Linked DNA regions of Homo sapiens. The protein of the gene in region 6 purifies or fractionates together with the protein of the main gene of each other region. This does not show direct contact. Each region holds a gene or a part of one and is shown on either strand. Other genes may lie near its edges.

Region 1 (2,389 bases), on a different chromosome or scaffold from region 6:
CAAGAAGGATAGTTTGGTTTTGTTTCCTACAATTAATGCTTCGTCAATCATGGCTTTTCATATTTAAGGTGGTATTAACTTACAAAATAAGGCAAAAGAACCATTAGGTATGATTGCTCCCAAAGTCCTCATAGCAAATGAACTCATGATTTCCTTACCTCCATCTTCATGGCGATCATAACCATGAGGGAATCTCCCGCTTTCACTTTGTCTCCAGCTTTGACAAACACCTTGAGATTCAGTGTGACAGGTTAATATTTGAAAACACAGAGGTCCTAGATATGTTCATCTGCTTCATTATAGTAACCATTTTACTGTCTATATATACTCATAACATCATGTTGCAAACCATGAATATAAACAATAAAACATAAATAAAAAGAAAAAAAACAACACAGAGGTCCTTTGTGGTCCACAGATTTGGTATATAAACTTACAGAGCAGAAGTAGAGCCCATGTGGTTGTGCCATCTGCCAAATGCACTGGTCAAATCAGAGGCCTACAGCCCAAATATACAGGTCAAATCTGAGACCTACAGCCCAAATGCACTGGTCAAATCAGAGGCCTACAGGTCAAATGCACTGGTCAAATCAGAGGCTTACAGCCCAAATGTACAGGTCAAATCTGAGACCTACAGCCCAAATGTACTGGTCAAATCAGAGGCCTACAGCCCAAATGTACTGGTCAAATCAGAGGCCTACAGCCCAAATGTACTGGTCAAATCAGAGGCCTACAGCCCAAATGCACTGGTCAAATCAGAGGCCTACAGGTCAAATGTACTGGTCAAATCAGAGGCCTACAGCCCAAATGTACTGGTCAAATCAGAGGCCTACAGGTCAAATGCACTGGTCAAATCAGAGGCCTACAGCCCAAATGCACTGGTCAAATCAGAGGCCTACAGGTCAAATGCACTGGTCAAATCAGAGGCCTACAGCCCAAATGCACTGGTCAAATCAGAGGCCTACAGCCCAAATGTACTCGTCAAATAAGAGGCCTACAGGTCAAATGCACTGGTCAAATCAGAGGCCTACAGCCCAAATGCACTGGTCAAATCAGAGGCCTACAGCCCAAATGCACTGGTCAAATCAGAGGCCTACAGGTCAAATGCACTGGTCAAATCAGAGGCCTACAGCCCAAATGCACTGGTCAAATCAGAGGCCTACAGGTCAAATGTACTGGTCAAATCAGAGGCCTACAGCCCAAATGTACTGGTCAAATCAGAGGCCTACAGGTCAAATGCACTGGTCAAATCAGAGGCCTACAGCCCAAATGCACTGGTCAAATCAGAGGCCTACAGGTCAAATGCACTGGTCAAATCAGAGGCCTACAGCCCAAATGTACTGGTCAAATCAGAGGCCTACAGGTCAAATGCACTGGTCAAATCAGAGGCCTACAGCCCAAATGCACTAGTCAAATGAGAGCCCTACAGGTCAATCTGGCATTGCTGGCACTGTCGTCCATGGGTAGCACTGCTTAGTCCCCTGTCCCCACCCACAAAACCACTTAGTTTTACTTGAATCACATGAATATACTCCATGTATTTTGAAATCCTTTCATTTTTTTCAAGAATGTAGAAACAAGACACATTGCCAGTAGGGAAGGACTAATATACTTAAATGTCTTCCCCAGAGAGGGAAGAGGGATGAGGGTCTTGACTGGTTTTCTTGTTTTGGGGTTGTCTAGGGCTAAGTATAGTAAGTGTGTTTGAAGTCTTCAGAGCCCTGTGTAGTAAATGTGAAGACAATCTTCATGCAACAGAATCAAACTTATTAGCAACCCCAGAAAGAGATTTCTATTTTCTTTTGTATACATATAAATGGACTCATAGATCCTATATGGTCTCACTTTCGTTTTGGTTAACATGGCTACTAAGTGGGAGACTAACAGAGTTGTGCAGAGATGCCTGCACTATGAGAGGCCTGTGGGAACTGAAATCAAATGAGCTAAAGGCAGATCCAGGTCTCCTAGCTCATACCCACTTGGGGTAAATATTTCCAAACGAGAATAGTGGCTGAAATCACCCACACTATTTAAGTAGTTATTTTCTTCTTCTTCTTTTTTTGTTCCAAGCATATACAGTTGAGTTTTTATGATTTAAGTGTATTTGAGGAGACTCTACTGTATTCAAGTATATAAAAGGAGACTACGGATACTGATCTATCACCATTTGATGTTATATCAGTATGTGCTAGGGTCTAAATGTCTATATCCCTCCAGAATTCATTTGTTAAAATCCTGACCTCCAGGATGATGGTATTTGGAGGTGGGGCCTTTAGCAGGTGATTAGGTCATGAGGGATCTGGCCTCATGAAAGAGATTAGTGCCCTTATGAAAGAGGCCTGAAGAGAGGTCCCTTGTCCCTTCCACCACGTGAGGACACAGAGAAAAA
Region 2 (4,282 bases), on a different chromosome or scaffold from region 6:
GGCACTGACGTGCCATCTCATTTATTCCTTCTTTGCACTCTCTGTCAACAGCCTTGTTCACTTCCTAAGATTCCTGACACTCTTTCTTTTCCTAATCTTAGTGTGACCACATGTCCTGGTTTTCCCAGTATGGTCCCAGCTGGTTTACACCTTTAGTCCTGGAGTGAGTCCTAGATAGTCCTTTTTACTATAAGACATGTCCTGGGTTGGTTGGTAAATTACATAATCTATTTATGCTACTCTTTGGTTTTCCTTATGTCCTCCCACCTAGCTCCCCTACATAGTCTTCTCTAACCTCTTTGAGGCCTCGGCAGAATCTTTCAAACACTCTCTTCATGTTACCACCCTTCTCCATGGAGATCACCCGTGTATGATCCTCCTCATTCACCCAGATCAGGAAGCTCTTCTCATTGTTGTGCCTGAGGGCCGGAGAGGGACAGTGATCAAGAGGCAAGGCAAGAATTGGGAGAGATAGAGGGAAAAAAAGCATTTATGAGGGCATGAAGACAAAAGAGGTAATGAGCAGCTTCATACCAAATTCCACGAGCATCTGGCCAGTCTCGAGCCATTCCTGCTGCAGTCAGCAACGGGGACACAGGCTTATCAAACAGAAAGTGGTCCTGGGAAGAGTAACGGGACTTGGGTTAAGAATCTTCATGGTGGCCCCTGGGCCTTTCAGAGCCCATGTCTCATCTGGCCCAGCCTTCCCCATCTGCTCCCACCAACCAGCACCCTCTTAAGGCCCTCACATCAATAAGCTGCTGCTGTTCAGCCTCTGTCATCTCACTGAGCCTATAGTAACGTCCAGCCAGGTCACCCTTCAGGCCACTCAGTGCATCCACCACAACACGTTCCACCTCTCGTCGCTCTGCTCGAGTGCAAGCTGGAGGCAGACTGAGTCCTCGGATGCTTCGGCCAGTTCTGACTCTAGAGGACAATACATACCTCTCATCAAAGTAGCCAGAACGGATCTGGGAGATAAGGGAAATGAATGTAAGTCACAGAAACACGGTGGGAACTGAGGGCCCCTGGGAAAGGAGAGACCTTCCTTAGGCATTAGAGGACTCTTTGTGCATTCTTCCTGCATGCATTGGAAGAAGAGGCCCTTTGGGAAAGCACTGGAATTGAAGGGGGCATTGCAGACCTTTCCCCAAACCACCCACCTTGGGTCATGGTCATTCTTATCTATCCTTCCATCTCCATATATGCTGCCCCTTAAGATATGATTCTTTCCTTACATTAAGATTAAAAGCTCAGCTGTATAATGACCATGAGTCAGGAAATAAGGTGAAGGGGTTGGAGATACAGAGTGTTGTACACAGGCAATGCAAATCAGAAGTGGGATATTTGAACTCACTTTACTGGCATCTAGATCCGTGGTGTGCTTCATTGTCCGGGGGTCATATCCATTGTGTCGCTCTTGGATCACAGGGTCAAACAGGTCAGCAAATACCTAAGGGGAGTTAAGAGGGAGAGATGGTTAAGGAGAGGGAATCCCTCCCCAGACTTCAATTGTGCATTGATTTCACTGGTTCAGAAAACTTAAGTATGGGGGGCTCAGAGTCTTGGGGGAAAGTGAGAGGTCTTTAGGGGAAAGGAGCTGGGATTACTGGGAAGATGAATTGGATCATCAGGGAGACTCTGGGGACCCCCTACCTCATAGGTCTCCTCATCTCCAGCCACCATGCCCACAGTCTTGATGAAGGGGTGGCCAGGGTTGTCCACGCCAGTCTGGATACACTGATCTAGCGTCCAACCAGTGGGTGTGGTCTTGTCGCAGAGCCGTGCATAGACTGCTGGGGTCAGGTGACTGGCCATGCAGTTGTTGTGCTTTCGGAGGTCTGGGTACTCAGCGCTGGGGAGGGGGTACCCAGTAACCATGGAGGGAGGGCACAGACGCCTAGACCTAGTGCAGTTACCTGGGAGCTGTCCAGTTGGCCATGTCTGGCTTTGCTCCGCGGGAGGAGGGGGAATTAGAAAGAGGGTAAACCTTGGTAATCTCTTTAGGGACTTTCAGAGTCTATGCTTTCCTAATAGTTCTAGTTGCCTCTGGCTGGCCAGCTCAGTTTCTTCAGATCTGCTCAGTTCTTTCCTCCCATGACACAACACTACGGATGGAGGAGGGGAAAAGCCTAAGGAGAGGAATTGAGGAAATGAGGGAAGGAGATGGAGGGGAGCGAAAAGGATAGTTCCTGGCTTTACAATTAGGGATTTGGGCAGCCAGTGCAGCTAGAACTCGTAGGGCCAGAGCTGGTCTTGGCAGGTCCCCAGGAATGTTCTTGCTTTATGGTTTTGGCCCCCACCCCCACCCCACTGAGGTCTGCAGACTGCACAGCCCTCCAGCTCCAGGGCCTTCGTGATTATAGCCCTTCTCTGTTGCCCGGATTCTCACTTCTACCCGCACCTTCGTTCCCATCACCTCCTGCCCCCGCCTCCTCCCGCGCCTCAGGCACTGTTACCTCGGGGGATACAGCCTCCGTCGTTCACTGGCAGCTCGTACAGGTTCCGGTCGGAGCAGAAACCCAGCGGCTAGAGACCCCGCTCCGGCCAAAGCCAGGAGCCTGAGTCCCGGGCGGGCGGACAGCAGACGGGAGAAGGGACCAGCCATGGCTTGAGGTCTGGCTACGGGATCCTGGAGTAGGCGCTGGCGCAAGATAAGATCCGGAACAGGGAGGGAGGATGCAACCGGATAGACCGAGGGCCGGAGCTAGGTCCGAGGCTGCAGCCGAAATGGGGGTCGGATTGGAGGCTGGAGCCGGAATGGGAGCCGGTGCCAATCAGACTGCAGGAGAGGCGCAATGAGCTAGTGGCAGGCGGGCGGGCGGAGGAGAGGGAGGCCCCAGCCGCAGTCTCCAGGGGTGGGGCTCCCCCAGGCCCCGCCTTCCCGCCTGCCACCGCGCTAGGTGCGCGAGGGCAGGGGTGGGCAGCACCCGCCAGGTAATTAGCGGGACCTGAGACTCGCGCGTCTAAAGCCGGGGATGTAGCCCCCTCCCGCCCCGGGGATGTGGCCGCCCAGATTTCAGCACCAAGTGGAGGACAGCACCCACGTGGACTAGCTGAACCCAACACCCTTCCCCCACACCCCTCGGTTTAAGCTGAAACTCGATCCGTCTACCCTGTGGGTGTGCAAGGGTGACACTGCCCAACCTTTCCTCTGCTTTCGGCCTGCCCCAGCCACCTCTTCGGTCTCCCGGGGGCAGCCGCGGGGAAACCGCGGAATAAACACAGATACCAGAGGAGGATATGGAGAAAGCACAGGGTTAGAGGCAGGCACTGGGAAAGACACCCACTGGCTCAAGGTCACCTTTTCCTTAGAACCAGGAAGAGGAGCAAGGTGCTTCCTTGCCACCTCTGTGCACGCCTTACAAAGTTGAGAAAGGACTCCCTGGGAGGAACCAAGGAAATATTAATTCTTATGCCATCTGTGCTGTGTCCTCCACCTCCATTCTGCACCCAAGTCTGAAGCCCTGTTATTTCCTGCCTCTGCTTCTCATGATCCCCCACTTTTTGTTTTCCTTTTGTCTCTCCCACTTTCCTCCACGTCCCCTACCTCACCTTTGATCTTTTACTTCTCTGCGTCTTTTCCAGGCTCAGATGTGTTTGCTGCTCACAGGATGCCCTCTGCGTTTTCTCGGCAAGCTTGCCCACCTGTTGGTGGTGCTGGGTGTGGGGGTGGGCAGGGAATCGTTAGTTTCCTCCTCCTCCTCTCCCTTGGCTTCTCTCTCCGTAGTTCCTAGTTCCTGTGCTGGAGGAGAAGGTAAAGTGAGGTGAAGGGTGTGGTGAGATGACTGGGTGTGGGACTGGAACAGGCAGGCACAGGTCTCCAGACACCACATGTGTTTCCTCTCTTGTCTCCCTAATGCTGTTTAATCCAGAGAGTAAAGGCGAGTGGTGTACAAAGGCATGAGGTCGTCAGGGAATCTCTGCCTTCCTCGTGGTCCCCTCTGCTGCTCTCTCTCTCCTCGTGAAACACATATTCAGATTTGAGAGGGCTTTGTTTCCCAGCTCCAGGTATGATTTGACCTTTGTCCTGGTAGCAAGGAGAATGAATGCTAGAGTTGAAATAGAGATGAGGGGCTTCAGCGTGGAGGGTCAGTTAAGGTGGAGTAGCACCGTGGCATTAGTCCCTTCCCTCTGCTATCCTGGTGTACCCACAAGACAGATACTTGGAAATCTTAACAGAGAGTATTTGGGAAAGAGAATTCCCTTTACATAGAAAATTCCCCCATATTACTCTCATTCCCTTCATTCTCCTTAGGCCTTCCTTGTGTCCTTTTATTCT
Region 3 (3,500 bases), on a different chromosome or scaffold from region 6:
CAAGAACTCACCCATTACCACAAGGGCAGCACCAGACCATTTGTGAGGGATCTGCTCCAATGACCCAAAAACCTCCCGTTAGGCCCCACTTCCAACATTGGGGATCAAATTTTAACATGAAATTTGGAGGAGATAGCCCTTTCCAAAGATAGGCAAAAAGAAAGAAAAGACTTTGTTGCTATAGTGGTTATGGATCTCCAGTTTCCCATGGAATATGACATGCCTGTAATCACACACACATTAATCTGTGACATTAACCATATGACTGACCAGCTAAGGTTGAGATGACAGAATCCCCTTAAAGACCGGGACCTTTATTACAAACTTCCCTGAGAGCTGGTGTGGTTGGACAGAGAATGTCCTTTAAAAAAATGTTTGTTATTTTCTTGAGGACAGAGATCATGTTTTCACTGTTGCTCATTGTGTTCAGTGTCTAATATGTAGTAAGTGCTAAAAAATACGTTGAATAAATGAGAAACATTCTTTTTGTTGCCGAAGGTAACCACTTCACATATGTTATTTAGTACTCATTTTGGTATAGCAAACTGATTTCATACATGATGAAAAAGGAGTCTATTAATTTGCCCAAAGTTGAGAACTGGGATTCCAACCCAGTTTTGACTCAGCCCTTTGCTTTTAGCCAAGGCTTTCCTGCTCAGAAGGATCTAGGAGTGGTAAAAATAGTTTGTGAGATTGAAAAACATGTCTCTAATTATTAGTTTTGTACTCCTTGTATGATTAGTAGCATCATTTGCATGAACTATTTCTATCATATTATCCACAGCAGTTCATTCAAACTACACTTTTGGCTCAATGATAGTTTTGCCCAGTATGCAAAATATAACAGATGTCACATTCCAACACTTGATTCATTGCCTGGTTGGACTCCAACATCAATTTGTTACTTTAACAAACAAACAAAAGTTGGTTCTAATGGCACAACTCAAATTTATTTTTATGTTTTTTATTGTATCTGAATCTATATGGCCCCTAAGTTTTTAGAAGTGTTTAAGTTCTTCCACAGTAAGTAAATAGATATGATAATGCTATCTGCCAACTCTTTATATTTTTTAAACTGTAAAATTTATTTTGTAAAATGTCCTTATTTATGAAACCTTTAATGAGTTTCTTGCTTTAAGTATCTGTGGGTTAGTTGAAAGAAAGTTTTTATTACAGGTCTAAGACTTGCTTTTCTTTGAACATCTTTTATGGTTGAAATAGAATGTAAACTCAGTCATCAAATTTAGATTAGTTTTAGCTGTAAATAACTAATAGTCTGCGGTAGAACAAGTTTCTATAAACAGTATTTTTAATGTTTCAATATGTGCTCTACTAAAACTGTTCAGCATTGATCCATACTAACATGCAATTTAGTGAACTTACTAGGAAAAGCATGATAAAAGTTTTGGCTTTTCTGGGCGTACTGAGAGATCTAGCAAAAATGCATCCCAAAGTGCAAAAACCTTACATTTATTTCTCTTCATGACAAGTGTAAACTGTTAAGGTTAAGTGGGTGGGGCAACCGGAAGTAATTACTAAGGCCAGTGGCATTTTTGTGGTTTAATAAAGGCAGAAGCTAATTATTCAGTTTTTATTTAAGTGAAATGGTGCCAAAAAGGAGGTTCCTGTGGAGCAGCTGCACTCCTTCAGTGTTGCCCTAATTTACCAAAGACACAACTGTCACAAACAAAACTTTTAAACTTGATATATAGCCACAAAAGTAAGGAGGCTTTTGTTGGGAGTGCATGCAGAAGAACTCCTTTATACAAATCAACCGGCAGATGACGGACAATGATGAAAATTTGATTCTTTGAAGTCATAATAGTCATTGAAATGTGTGAAATTCTGGTATTGAAAAGAGAGCGGCCAGCAAGACTCTAAATCCTGGGTGGTTGCAAGAAGCTTGCTGGGAGGTTTTTCTGCATTTTGACACCAACTTCCCATTGCTTGTTCCCTGCTTCCTTTGTTAAAGAAAAAAAAAGTTGAAATCACAGAAGATAAATGGAGACAGTTGATAACCGAATCATACAGTTTTAATATGGAAAACTAGTATTTTATCATGGAAATTGGTATTTGAAAGAATAAAGTTCATATACATATACTGGTACATTCATAGTGATTTTTTAAATTTTCTCTTCATTTATGTAGACTTGTGAAATGGCAGGTCAGCTATCATCTCCTCCAAAATTTAAAATTGTTGAAGATATGGTGTTGAAAGAATGAACTTTGGAATTATGACATGCATCTTTCCAATAGCAAATTTTGACTTGAATGCCCTTAATCTGTGAATTATCATTGACTTATTAGTTATCATTTATTAAAATAGCATATTGCACATAAGGTTGTATTTCTGAAACTTTATTAGGATAATGACATTAATAATGGAAGCATAGGTTTCATACTTGACCCAACTATTCAACAATTAAGTTTTAAAATTCAATAAATCTGTGTATATTACTTATAGAGTAGCTTGTTTTATTAGAATTTACAGATAATTATTAACTGGTGAGTCTTGAGGTTCTTCAGGTGCCAGCTTGAAGGCTTTTCATACCTATGTGATTTAGTTTTTTGAATTATTATTTATAAATTATTTATCTCTATTTTACCAGTAAAATAAGAAATTTGTAAAAGGCAATAGTGACATCTTTCTCCAAAGCATTTCTAGCTTTTCTAAATAGGTTTCAAAAACTCACAGGTGATCCATATTGCCATACAAAAGTAGAAATCCATAAAGAATACAATTAGTTCAATATAATTTAAATAGTTTGCGGATTTTAAATTTTTTTGTGAAAGTTAGATCTCAGGTAGCTCCGTGTGAATTTAGAGGGAACCACACAAAGCGTTGAAGACACAAGTAGAGTTCAGCATAGTGCCTCATAGTTCTTTTCAAGTGTTACATTGTTTTAATGGAATCTTGGAGTGGGAGCTTTAGCCCATTGAAATGTGCTTAAAGAACAGGTTCTTCTGTCACTAGCCGAAGCTGTGTGGATGAAATGATAACAATAGGGTGTCGTGATGCATTTTTAAAGTGTGAGAAATCAGGTTGTCTAGACTGAGAGTGTGCCTACAGGGACTAGGAATTTTAGAGCCTCTGTACCCTTTAGGTGTCAAGTATATGAGAGATGCCAAGCCTCTTTATTCTGTCTTTGGCAGCAGCTCAATTGGGCTGTAGTACCTTACATGTCTTCTGCATGCAAAAACTGATTCTGTGTCATGACAACTTGGGTTCCCAAAATCAGAAACCCACTTGTTCAAATGCCAACTTTAAATTAGGGTAAGATACCAATAAATAATTGCTGTAATTCGAGAAGACATGGAAGATTGGTAGTTATGAGTTCAAAATATAAATAGCTTAGCAACATTGTGTAGACACTTTTTAAAAAAGGTTTTCTATATACTGTCCTTTCTACTTTGTAGCTCAAATACTGTTTTATAGTATAAATCAAGAAATACTATTTCAATTTTTTTCAAAACTTGAAAAAGTTTAAAATCTTAAGTTT
Region 4 (3,500 bases), on a different chromosome or scaffold from region 6:
GATCTGTGACTCTGGGGAAGCCACTTAACCTCTCTGTGCAACAGTTTTCTATCTGTAAAACAGGAGTAGCAATAATGCCCACTTCCAGGATTGCTGTGAGGATTAAGTGATATAATCCACATGTGCACAACAAATGCTAGCTGTTGTTAATCTCAATTATACCAAGCATGAGTAACAATCATTAATAATCACCATGGTGAATTTTAACCTGCTGCTGTATCCCTACTGTCCTTTCACTGGGACCAGAGAGATATCCTTGATGTAGGGGCTGAAAACACGCACGCGAGAGAGAAAGTCTGTGATGTTTCCCCACAATACACAGCAGGACACTCGATGAGAACCCTCGGCAGGTGACACGCTGACTTCACTGTCCCACATCTGCACCCCGAGCAGGGGTGAGACTTTGCAGGCAACAAACCATGCAGTCTGCCCGCAGCTGAGGCTCACGGGCAGCACAGAGCAGAATGCACACAGAGAGCGTTTGTTCCTCCCCCTTCTCCCCCACATCCGTCGTGAGGTCAAGTCACGTGGGGTTACTGGCAAACCCCATGTTGCAAGAATATGGGTATTGTTCTTGTGCATGCCTGGCCCACACTGGGCAAGGGGACAAATGTAGCTTGTCCTCAAGTCAGGTCGCATCTTCCTGGGCAGTCAAACGCTGTTGAGGCCACAAGCTGGGCTTGGGGAGGCTGTGCAGCCCCATGCATGGAGCACTGGGTAAGAGGGCAGCCTCCTTTGGTTCTCTCACATGGGGACAGTAGAAAGGCCCCAGTTTCTCCCCATCTAATGGGGGCAAGTCAAGGAAGGATGAGGTCACTCCTTTGAGCTCCATAGCAGGGGCTGAATAAACAGGAGGTATTAAGAGATCAAAAGGATTTACAAACACATGAAATACCGTGGAGTGGGAACGAACAGGCAGACATGTTTTCTCTAAGTCCAGATCCCAGTTCTTGAACCTGGCGGTCCTGGCAGAGGCCAAGGGAATTGGATTAGCTGCAAGTGAGCTACTAAAGAGAAAGTATTTCCCACGCAGAGAAAGAGAACATGCTCCTAATGGGGCTTGTGGTTAATATTAAATATTCATGCTAGGGCTCAGCAGAGGAAGATTTTAGGATCACGGGTTTTGTGGGCTTTAAATCTTGCGTGGATGGCTACGGATCTGCAGTGCCTAGCTTTAGCCCTCTCTAGTCACGGGAAAAGGGAAGCGATCCCCTGGCAGCTGTGTTCGGGGACTCAGCAGCAGCCGGCAAGCTACAGGACAGCTCATCTGGAAGCAGGCCCCATGGAAGTCACGGAACCACTGCAGGGCTCGGGCTGGTTTTTACAAGGGCTATTCAGTGCTTCCCTTTGGAGAAGCTACTCATCGCTTACACCCCAAGCTTGTTAGCCAAGGCTGCTGTTGATAAATGACAAAGTGTTCCCCTTTATAAAACAAGCGAATGTTAGCTTGCTGTCTGACTCATGGAAAAAGTTATCCATCACAGAGCCTTCTCTAGGATTACGGTATTAATTTGCTTAAGGGTTGTTTATTCTGCTTTTTTCAGGCTGACATTACAGGCCCAGAAAAAAAAAAAAAAAAGAAAGGCTGGTGTAGCAGCAGTAGCATATGCCAGCGTGTCCTTTACACAAGAAATGGAACAGTGTTTTTCACTGTTCACCAGGGCTCTCAGTTTAGCCCAGGGAGAGGACACAGCAGGCTCCCGTCCCTACACCAGCTCTGTCCTGCAAACAGCACTCACCACGCCCGTTTGTGTGAAGGAGAACAAAATCCGGTAGGGCCTCTGGCCTGCAATAAAAGTTTATTATATCCAAATAACTCCACCAGGTGTTCAAAGGAGCCCTACCTCTGCCCCGACTGGTTTCGTCTTGGTTCCCGCCCTCCCGAGTTCACGGGAATAAGTGCCACAATGGAATTCCATTTGCCACACGCTGTACTTCTTTGCCCCAGAGGGGAGTGGGTGTGTAAGCTGTGCTGTGGTTGTGTAAGCTGTGCTGGTTTCAGGAGGGAGAAAAATGAAGCCCAGAGCAATAAAATGAACTGCCCCAGGTCACAAGCCAGGATGGGGATGCCAGCTTACTAAGGCCAAGTGTCGCGTGTCCTGAAAATCACCAGGCACCTCATCATGGATAGGGGGCTGGCCGAGGAAGGGGGGGCATTCACGGCCTCTGGCTGGAGCCCCCCTAGATGCCCTCATTCAGCAGCCATGGTTCTGGAGGGACACCAGGGAGCTGGGAAAGGCTGCTGGCCTAGGACCAAGAAAATGAAGTTCCCCAACAAGTTTGCAGCCTGGGATTAGGGATCTTGCTGACGGGCTGAATCTCCAGGCCTGGATTGGAGAGAAGGCCCATATAAGGCTGTCAGCTGCTCTGGACTTACCATAGACTGTTCTGAATGTTGGAAAGGTTTTCACTTGCTTTTCTGCCTGGTTATATACTCTTTCTCTACTTGGTAAGCTGTGGCCCCACTGGAGAAAAGACACCCCTGGGCTGTTCAGGTTTCCTGAAAAGTCAGCTGCATGGTCAGGCTGGCCTGTGGGTTGCTCTGCAGACAGTTGGTGGCCCAGTGCAAGGGGCGGTCACCCCATGACTATTCCTTGGAAAAGTAGCCAGGGTGTGGCTGGCACTCCAAGCTCATCTGCTAGGAGAAGGGCTCTGGGCCAGTACAGAAGGCTGGTCTCACAGCCTCGTGGGGAAGGGGACACAGAGCGACGCCTCCTTGGCCCTTTGCCCATGGACGACAATTATTATTTCCTAAAGCGTTCAGTGACGTTCAGGGCATAGCTCAGACCTAAGCAGTGCTCAGAGTGCTGTGCTGCTGTTTTTTTTTTTTTTTTTTTTTTTGAGATGGAGTCCCGCTCTGTCTCCCAGGCTGGAGACAGAGCCTCAGTGGTGTGATCTCAGCTCTCTGCAACCTCTGCCTCCCAGGTTCAAGAGATTCTTGTGCCTCAGCCTCCCGAGTAGCTGGGATTATAGGTGCACGCCACTACGCCCAGCTAATTTTTGTATTTTTAGTAGAAGTGGGGTTTTGCCATGTTGGCCAGGCTGGTGTCGAACTCCTGACCTCGGGTGATCTGCCTGCCTCGGCCTCCCAAAGTGCTAGAGGCTGAGGCGGACGGATCACCTGAGATCAGGGCTGATCACTGTGCCCAGACACAGTGCTGCTGTTCTAACTTTACCGTGCATCATCCCCCTTGCCGGCGCTTCTGCAGGCAGAACGAAGTCTTCAAAGCTCCGCTCTCTTCCCCGAATGGGGTGTCGCTGCAAAGGATCTGTATTTCCCTGGCAGAGCTAAGTGGACAGTGGCCCTTAGACCCCAACTAGGGGATCTGTGTCTCTTTGGGGTTGTGCCTTCAAATCACCCTCCTGGTCACTTCAGGTAGGACCACCGGCCACCAGCAGGGCCCTGCAATGACCTGCAGGATCTGAATCCTGTGAGGTTCCCAGAGGTGAGCCCCAGCTCCTCTAATGGCACTCACCATTCTCCTGCCACCCTGCAGCTT
Region 5 (2,864 bases), on a different chromosome or scaffold from region 6:
TGGAGGATAGAATGGTTCGAGTTCTAGAATATGTGGCTCTAGATGAGAGGTTGAACTGAATCATCAATCCTACATGGATTGGGTCTCCGTATTCAAGTCTACATTAGAAATCCCCATAAACTCAATTCAATTCTTACTGTATGTTCTCAAACATACAGTTCTATTTTAGGTTTGCAAAGAAAAAGAGCTCCTCTTTTAGATTCTGAGAAGTTTCTACTATTTTTGGCAAGTAATAGATAACATATTCTGACTATGAGTGGGTAGGGAAGTACCTTTAAATTATATGCCTCAGTTTCCTCATCTGTAAAATTGGGATAATGAGATTTTCTACATTTTAGGTTGTTGTGGGGATTAAGTGAAATACAGGTAAAGTACTTGGTCCACAGTAAGTGCTTAATAAGTGTTAAAGTGTTAGCTGCAATATTATTCTGGATGGAAGAGTTTCCCCCCATGTTCAGCACATAAGATATCCCTGGTGGCATGGTTCCTTCTGAACTACAAACAGGATCCCTTTACTCATGTTGGATAGTGGTCTTTGTGATCATCACTCTGCTAGATCCCTTGTCTCTTGAACTCTAATAGTCATCTTCATGACTACATGGTTAATGGAAGCAAAATGCCTTCCCCCTGTCCCCTATTCCTATGAATCTGGCTTTCCTGCTCTGTTTTCATCTTTCTCTGCATTCACACAGGTGCTCCGTTCACAGCTAATAGAACGTTATCTCACCTCTTCCTGGCAAAGCTTACACCTTCATCTTCTGTCTGAAAGGACCCTTCCAAGCTCTAGGCTCATTAGCAAAGCAAAGATAATCGATGCATGCAGACCTCATTGAATAATCAGTCCTCTCTCAGTTCAGTTTACCACCTCTGTTCATTTCCCTAGATCATCCTTAATACACCACGCCTTCGAGTTTTCTTCTTCCACATAAGATATTTTTTCACAATCTCATTATTATGCACATCATAATTTTGCATCATGCATGCATGAAAACAATAACAAACCTTTTTCATTTAAAAAAAGACCAATGTCATTCATTCACAGCCAAGTTTCTATTCTAGACAAATTTCTAGTGTTCTTGTGGGTCTAGCTAAGGGAGGGTCCAGGGTTAATGAAATATCCCTGATTTTTCATTAATAAAAACTTTGTGGACTCAGGTGGAGAGACTTATCCAAGAACGTGGCTGGGAGTTCATGTGGAATGAGCGTTTGGGATACATCTTGACCTGTCCATCTAACCTGGGCACTGGACTTCGGGCAGGAGTGCACATCAAACTGCCCCTGCTAAGCAAAGTAAAGGAGTTGTGGGGTTACAGAGGGGTGTGAGTAAGGAAGGGTGGGTTGTGGATGGGGAGGGAGTGGACCCTTTGGAGAGGAGCCAAACATGTTGTGGCTAAAGGGTCAGAGGACAGGCCAGGCACAGTGGCTCATGCCTCTAATCCCAACACTTGGGAGGCCAAGGCAGGCAGATCATTTGAGCCCAGGAGTTCAAGACCAGCCTGGGCAACCTGGTGAAACCCCATCTCTACTACAAATACAAAAGTTAGCTGGGTGTAGTGGAGGCTGAGGTGAGAGGATCACTTAAGCCTGGGAAGTCGAGGCTTCAGTGAGCTGTGATCACTCCAGCCTGGGTGACAGAGAGAGACCCTGTCTAAAAAAAAAAAAAAAGAAAAAAGGAAAAAAAAAAGTTCAGGAGACAGAGCTCTGAGCAGGTTCAGGGCTCTTTCAGGTAGGACTAGTCTCTGCCTCTATTGACCCTGCTCCCAATCCCTATCTCCTCTCTAGGATAGCCGCTTCCCAAAGATCCTGGAGAACCTAAGACTCCAAAAGCGTGGTACTGGAGGAGTGGACACTGCTGCCACAGGCGGTGTCTTTGATATTTCTAATTTGGACCGACTAGGCAAATCAGAGGTGAGATCCTAAGGGATTAGGATGAGGAGAGGTATAGGTCTGTGGGGGCTGAAATATGGCAGTGAGTGAGCCTCCGGGATGTAACATAATCTGAAATGAAATTCAGGTTGAGTGGGGAGGCAATTGGAAATGAGCAGGCAAGTCAGTCAGTGATAAAGAAAAACTCAGACTGTAGGAAGCAGAGATCAAAGATTAGTGTCCTTCAGGTGGAGCTGGTGCAACTGGTCATCGATGGAGTAAACTATTTGATTGATTGTGAACGGCGTCTGGAGAGAGGCCAGGATATCCGCATCCCCACACCTGTCATCCACACCAAGCATTAACTCCCCATCGCCAGCTGATGACTCAAGATTCCAAGGAGTTCTGCTCATTCTAATGATGGCCCATTCTACTTGCTCTGGACCTGCCCTCGCATCCCCTGCCTCCATCCTAGTAAAGACTCCTTGCTATGCTGCAGCTGTCTGTGTTACTTCTAATGGTGGGGTGAGGAGGGAGCAGCCTTCAGGAAATGAAAAGAGGCAGTGGGATTATTTATGATGGAAAGAGACTCCAGATATGGCAACCCAGGAACACTGATTCTCAGGTGGGTGGAAAGCATTAACATTTTACCCATATTCCTCATCAGCTTCTGAAAATAATCAGGATGCACTTCTGTTTGCACTTTATTCATTATGACTTAAGATTTCTCTCCCCACAATCTCCTTCTACTGTAGAGACAGGCTCATAGCAGGTGGCCAAGGAAGCTGATAGTCAATACCAGGGACCAGGAAGGTCGTGACCAGTCCTGGAGGCCCCAGGCTGTACTTCGACCTATAATAGACAGGGAATGGGAGTAATATCACAACTCAGCTCTCCAGGAGCATTGATACTTGGAAATTAGCGCTCTGCCTGTAGACTCCTTCACTCCAGGGATCTCCCTGGGTGCACTCTAAGAGCCAGACAGCACCAAATTAGGG
Region 6 (4,067 bases):
AGTTTTCAGAATTGCCCTTGGAATGCAGTTCCCCACTCTTTGGGCACACCCCTGAGCAGGCCCCAAGCTAAATCCCTGGCCATAACTCCCCACACTACTCCCACCCTAACCCCAAGCAAGCTGCTTACATTTCAGTCTTTCAGTTTCAAGGTTCCATGTAGGGTGGGCAGCTGTGGACAGGTATCAAGGCAGCAGTTGGGGCCGGCCAGCAGGTTTAGGATGCAGGATAGCAAGAGAAGAGTGCCTGACTGGGAACAAGGCCACGCCTCTGAGACAAGGGCTTCTGGGCTGAAGTAGTGCCTGCTGGGGCCAACAGCACAACCTACCTGGACAGCTGTGGCAGGTCCTTAAGGGAGGGGCTGGGCCCACTGCTGGCCACCGCCACCCTAGTCCAATTCTCCATTGCTAGGAGCTGTTGCGTATTACCTAGAAAAGGAGCTTGTAAAATTGACTCTCTGGTCACCACCAAACTTGTCTTTTTTTTTTTTGAGACAGAGTTTTGCTCTTGTTGCCCAGGCTGGAGTGCAATGGTGTGATCTCAGCTCACCGAAACCTCCGCCTCCCAGGTTCAAGTGATTCTCCTGCCTCAGCCTCCCGAGTAGCTGGGATTACAGGCATGAGCCACCATGCCCAGCTAATTTTGTATTTTTTAGTAGAGATGGGGTTTCTCCATGTTGGTCAGGCTGGTCTCCAACTCCCGACCTCAGGTGATCTGCACACCTCGGCCTCCCAAAGTGCTGGGATTACAGGCGTGAGCCACTGCGCCCGGCCCAAACTTGTCTGTCTTTATCTCTACTTACAGTGAGTGTCAGGTCACCCTCTTGGAGACCGGTGATCAGAGGCTGATGACCTCTCACAGCTGCTGGCCCTGGGGACCTAGGGGATCCCTTTGGGAATCCCAGGTCAACCGGGTGCCAGCTCCATTGCTCTGGCTGTGTGGGTGGTGGTGGGTGGTGAGGCACATAGAAAGTCACCAGCGCCAGGGAAGGGCAGCTCAGAAATCCTGGTCATGCCAAGTGCCACTCAGGGCTATTCTCACTCTAGTGAGTGCTCATTGGTTCTTCCCGAAGTCCAGAGGGAAGGACACCATCGGGGGCGCTGTATCCCACCCGGCACCATTAGCCCCTGCCACCCACCACCCAGCAGCTGGATTCCCACGGGAGTTGCGGGTGGGGGCGGAACCGGCTGAGGTCTGGGGGCGGGGCGTCCGGGCGCGGGGCGGGGCTGGCGGGAATGTGCGCACCCCCGCGCGGGGCCCCGCCCGAGCATCCCGCGCCGACGGGGCTGTGCCGGAGCAGCTGTGCAGAGCTGCAGGCGCGCGTCATGGCTGCTTTGAGACAGCCCCAGGTCGCGGAGCTGCTGGCCGAGGCCCGGCGAGCCTTCCGGGAGGAGTTCGGGGCCGAGCCCGAGCTGGCCGTGTCAGCGCCGGGCCGCGTCAACCTCATCGGGGAACACACGGACTACAACCAGGGCCTGGTGCTGCCTATGGTGAGGGGCTGCACGGGGAGCCCCTAGCCCGCCGCCGCCTGTCCCGGCCGCCGAGGAGGGCGGGCCTCGGGGACGCTGGGGGCGAGTTCTTCCCGCGGGAGATGTGGGGCGGGCAGCTGCGCCTGGAGCACCGGTGCACGGAAGAGTCCCCGGGACAGGCTGTTCCCCACGTTGGAAGGGAGGAAGCGAGGAAGTGGCCGGGAGAGGGTGCGCGGCCGCCTCTTGGCTCAAGCCCGCCCTCTGGGGGCTGGGGCTCCTCGCCTTCAACCTGGGAGCATGTTCCCCTTAAACTGTGAGGCCCTGTGTGCCACGCAGAAGGGGACACTCCGCGCCTCCGGCCACCGTGGGGCCCCAACCGCAGACCTGGGCGAACGTAGCCTTCTGGCCCAGCCCGTTCAATTTACAGAGGAGGAAACTGAGGCCTAGAGAGGCCCAGTGAACTGCTGGAGGTCACACAGCAGGTTCTTGGCGGGGCTGCGACTTGGGAGTGAGGACTCCCAGCTTTCAGCGGGGGGCGCTTTCCGCCCCATCTGCAGCTTGGGGAGTGCACAGGTACAGGATGTCCAGAGCCACCCCAAAATGTAAAGGCTTTGGAGCTCCAGTGATCTGTTTTCCCTTTGGGCTAGCTCTCCCCCTTGCCCCACAGCTCAGGGCAGAGTCCAGGTCTGTGCTCCAGCTGCAGCCGCCCCGCCCCTGAAGACCTAAGGGGGCAGGGCTCAAGCCCCCAAGGTCAGCTGGCCCTCAGGATCTTCCCTGCGACGCTGAACCTGGAGGTTCAGAACCTGATGACTGTGGAGGCATCAGAACCTCGGCTGGAGGCAGTGTCATTGGAGAGGCTTACTCCAGCTGGCGGAAGCCTCACGTACTGCTTGTCTCTCCTGCCAGGCTCTGGAGCTCATGACGGTGCTGGTGGGCAGCCCCCGCAAGGATGGGCTGGTGTCTCTCCTCACCACCTCTGAGGGTGCCGATGAGCCCCAGCGGCTGCAGTTTCCACTGCCCACAGCCCAGCGCTCGCTGGAGCCTGGGACTCCTCGGTGGGCCAACTATGTCAAGGGAGTGATTCAGTACTACCCAGGTATGGGGCCCAGGCCTGAGCCAAGTCCTCACTGATACTAGGAGTGCCACCTCACAGCCACAGAGCCCATTCATTTGTCTGATACACTGTGGGGAAGGCTTGTAGAGTGGAGCATCCCATTGTACAGATGAGGAAACTGATGCCCCCAGAAGGTCGGGAACTTGCCCTGGGTTTCCCGTGACCTGATTGGAGGAGCCAGGATTTGAACCCCAGCCTTTTTTCCCTCCAGAGCCCTAAACCAGGAGGACAATTAGAAGTGTCCCAGCAACCTCAGAGGGTGGGAAAATGGAGGGCAGTGGGTCCCTTGGCCCAGCAGGTTGGTGGCTTCTGACAATTGAGACACACACCCTAGAAACAGCTGCTAGGCCGTTGCTGCCCTTCCCGCCAGGACACCTGCCCTTCCTGTGCCATCCTCCCAGGCAGCCCCTCTTACCATCACCTGTTCTTTCCCCTGCAGCTGCCCCCCTCCCTGGCTTCAGTGCAGTGGTGGTCAGCTCAGTGCCCCTGGGGGGTGGCCTGTCCAGCTCAGCATCCTTGGAAGTGGCCACGTACACCTTCCTCCAGCAGCTCTGTCCAGGTACCAGCTAGGCCCCAGCCCTGACCCAGCCCTCCTTCCCTGAGGTCTCCAGGTGGTCCCAGCTTCTACTATGCCTTATGGAGGGGGTGGCAGGGACTCTCCCTGGAGTGTCATTGAAGCCACTGCTGCTTCCACCAGCCCTAGCCTCCCCACCTCACCCTGTACTGCAGACTCGGGCACAATAGCTGCCCGCGCCCAGGTGTGTCAGCAGGCCGAGCACAGCTTCGCAGGGATGCCCTGTGGCATCATGGACCAGTTCATCTCACTTATGGGACAGAAAGGCCACGCGCTGCTCATTGACTGCAGGTTGGGCTCGCTCCCCTCGTCCCCTCCCGCCCTGCACTCAGCAGCTCCTGGGTGGGAGTGTGCCCACTGCCTGGCGCAGCAAGCACACGCTTGGCCTCGTCATCTCCCCCATTGTAACTCCACCCCAGGTCCTTGGAGACCAGCCTGGTGCCACTCTCGGACCCCAAGCTGGCCGTGCTCATCACCAACTCTAATGTCCGCCACTCCCTGGCCTCCAGCGAGTACCCTGTGCGGCGGCGCCAATGTGAAGAAGTGGCCCGGGCGCTGGGCAAGGAAAGCCTCCGGGAGGTACAACTGGAAGAGCTAGAGGGTGAGAACTGCCAGGGTGCTCTATCCTGGAGGCGGCTGTGCTCCCTGCTGGCGCCTCAGTGTGGCCTTGACCCTGCCTGGGACCCCGATCTCCAGGGCCTTCTGCCATGCTCTCCCCAGTCCCTTCAAACACTGCGCACCCAGGGTTCCAATCTCAGCAGGGCTGCTTGAAATCCTAAAATGGTCTTATCTAATCAGAAAAATCATGTTTCCATTGTGGAAAATGTAGAAAAGTACAAAGTAGAAAATAATAAGCTATAAGGCCACTACCCAGAGATAGCCACTGCTGACATTTTCACGTTTCCTTTCAGT

The links.
Region 1: the proteins of GALK1 (region 6) and MCCC1 purify together in Homo sapiens (affinity purification with a luminescence readout, with the first as the bait; one study listed by BioGRID). This does not show direct contact.
Region 2: the proteins of GALK1 (region 6) and CKMT1B fractionate together in Homo sapiens (co-fractionation; one large-scale study listed by BioGRID). This does not show direct contact.
Region 3: the proteins of GALK1 (region 6) and NDUFS4 fractionate together in Homo sapiens (co-fractionation; one large-scale study listed by BioGRID). This does not show direct contact.
Region 4: the proteins of GALK1 (region 6) and CD9 purify together in Homo sapiens (co-immunoprecipitation; one study listed by IntAct). This does not show direct contact.
Region 5: the proteins of GALK1 (region 6) and CKMT1A fractionate together in Homo sapiens (co-fractionation; one large-scale study listed by BioGRID). This does not show direct contact.

The regions. Positions count from the first base shown.
Region 1 is NC_000003.12:183,017,108-183,019,496, forward strand, and holds part of MCCC1 (methylcrotonoyl-CoA carboxylase subunit alpha, mitochondrial isoform 1 precursor), read right to left. Parts: intron 231-2,389; coding exon 159-230; intron 1-158.
Region 2 is NC_000015.10:43,592,545-43,596,826, reverse strand, and holds the start of CKMT1B (creatine kinase U-type, mitochondrial precursor), read right to left. Parts: upstream 2,801-4,282; 5' UTR 2,609-2,800; coding exon 2,460-2,608; intron 2,133-2,459; exon of another isoform or gene 1,949-2,132; coding exon of another isoform or gene 1,856-1,948; coding exon 1,657-1,855; intron 1,454-1,656; coding exon 1,358-1,453; intron 972-1,357; coding exon 750-971; exon of another isoform or gene 749-749; intron 621-748; coding exon 535-620; intron 420-534; coding exon 296-419; intron 1-295. UniProt on the Homo sapiens protein: Reversibly catalyzes the transfer of phosphate between ATP and various phosphogens (e.g. creatine phosphate).
Region 3 is NC_000005.10:53,640,639-53,644,138, forward strand, and holds part of NDUFS4 (NADH dehydrogenase [ubiquinone] iron-sulfur protein 4, mitochondrial isoform 1 precursor), read left to right. Parts: intron 1-3,500. UniProt on the Homo sapiens protein: Accessory subunit of the mitochondrial membrane respiratory chain NADH dehydrogenase (Complex I), that is believed not to be involved in catalysis. Complex I functions in the transfer of electrons from NADH to the respiratory chain.
Region 4 is NC_000012.12:6,227,900-6,231,399, reverse strand, and holds part of CD9 (CD9 antigen), read right to left. Parts: intron 1-3,500. UniProt on the Homo sapiens protein: Integral membrane protein associated with integrins, which regulates different processes, such as sperm-egg fusion, platelet activation and aggregation, and cell adhesion.
Region 5 is NC_000015.10:43,696,859-43,699,722, forward strand, and holds the end of CKMT1A (creatine kinase U-type, mitochondrial isoform 1 precursor), read left to right. Parts: intron 1-1,155; coding exon 1,156-1,290; intron 1,291-1,782; coding exon 1,783-1,908; intron 1,909-2,114; coding exon 2,115-2,231; 3' UTR 2,232-2,364; downstream 2,365-2,864. UniProt on the Homo sapiens protein: Reversibly catalyzes the transfer of phosphate between ATP and various phosphogens (e.g. creatine phosphate).
Region 6 is NC_000017.11:75,762,393-75,766,459, reverse strand, and holds the start of GALK1 (galactokinase), read left to right. Parts: upstream 1-1,267; 5' UTR 1,268-1,323; coding exon 1,324-1,488; intron 1,489-2,373; coding exon 2,374-2,563; intron 2,564-3,020; coding exon 3,021-3,140; intron 3,141-3,310; coding exon 3,311-3,446; intron 3,447-3,574; coding exon 3,575-3,756; intron 3,757-4,067. UniProt on the Homo sapiens protein: Catalyzes the transfer of a phosphate from ATP to alpha-D-galactose and participates in the first committed step in the catabolism of galactose.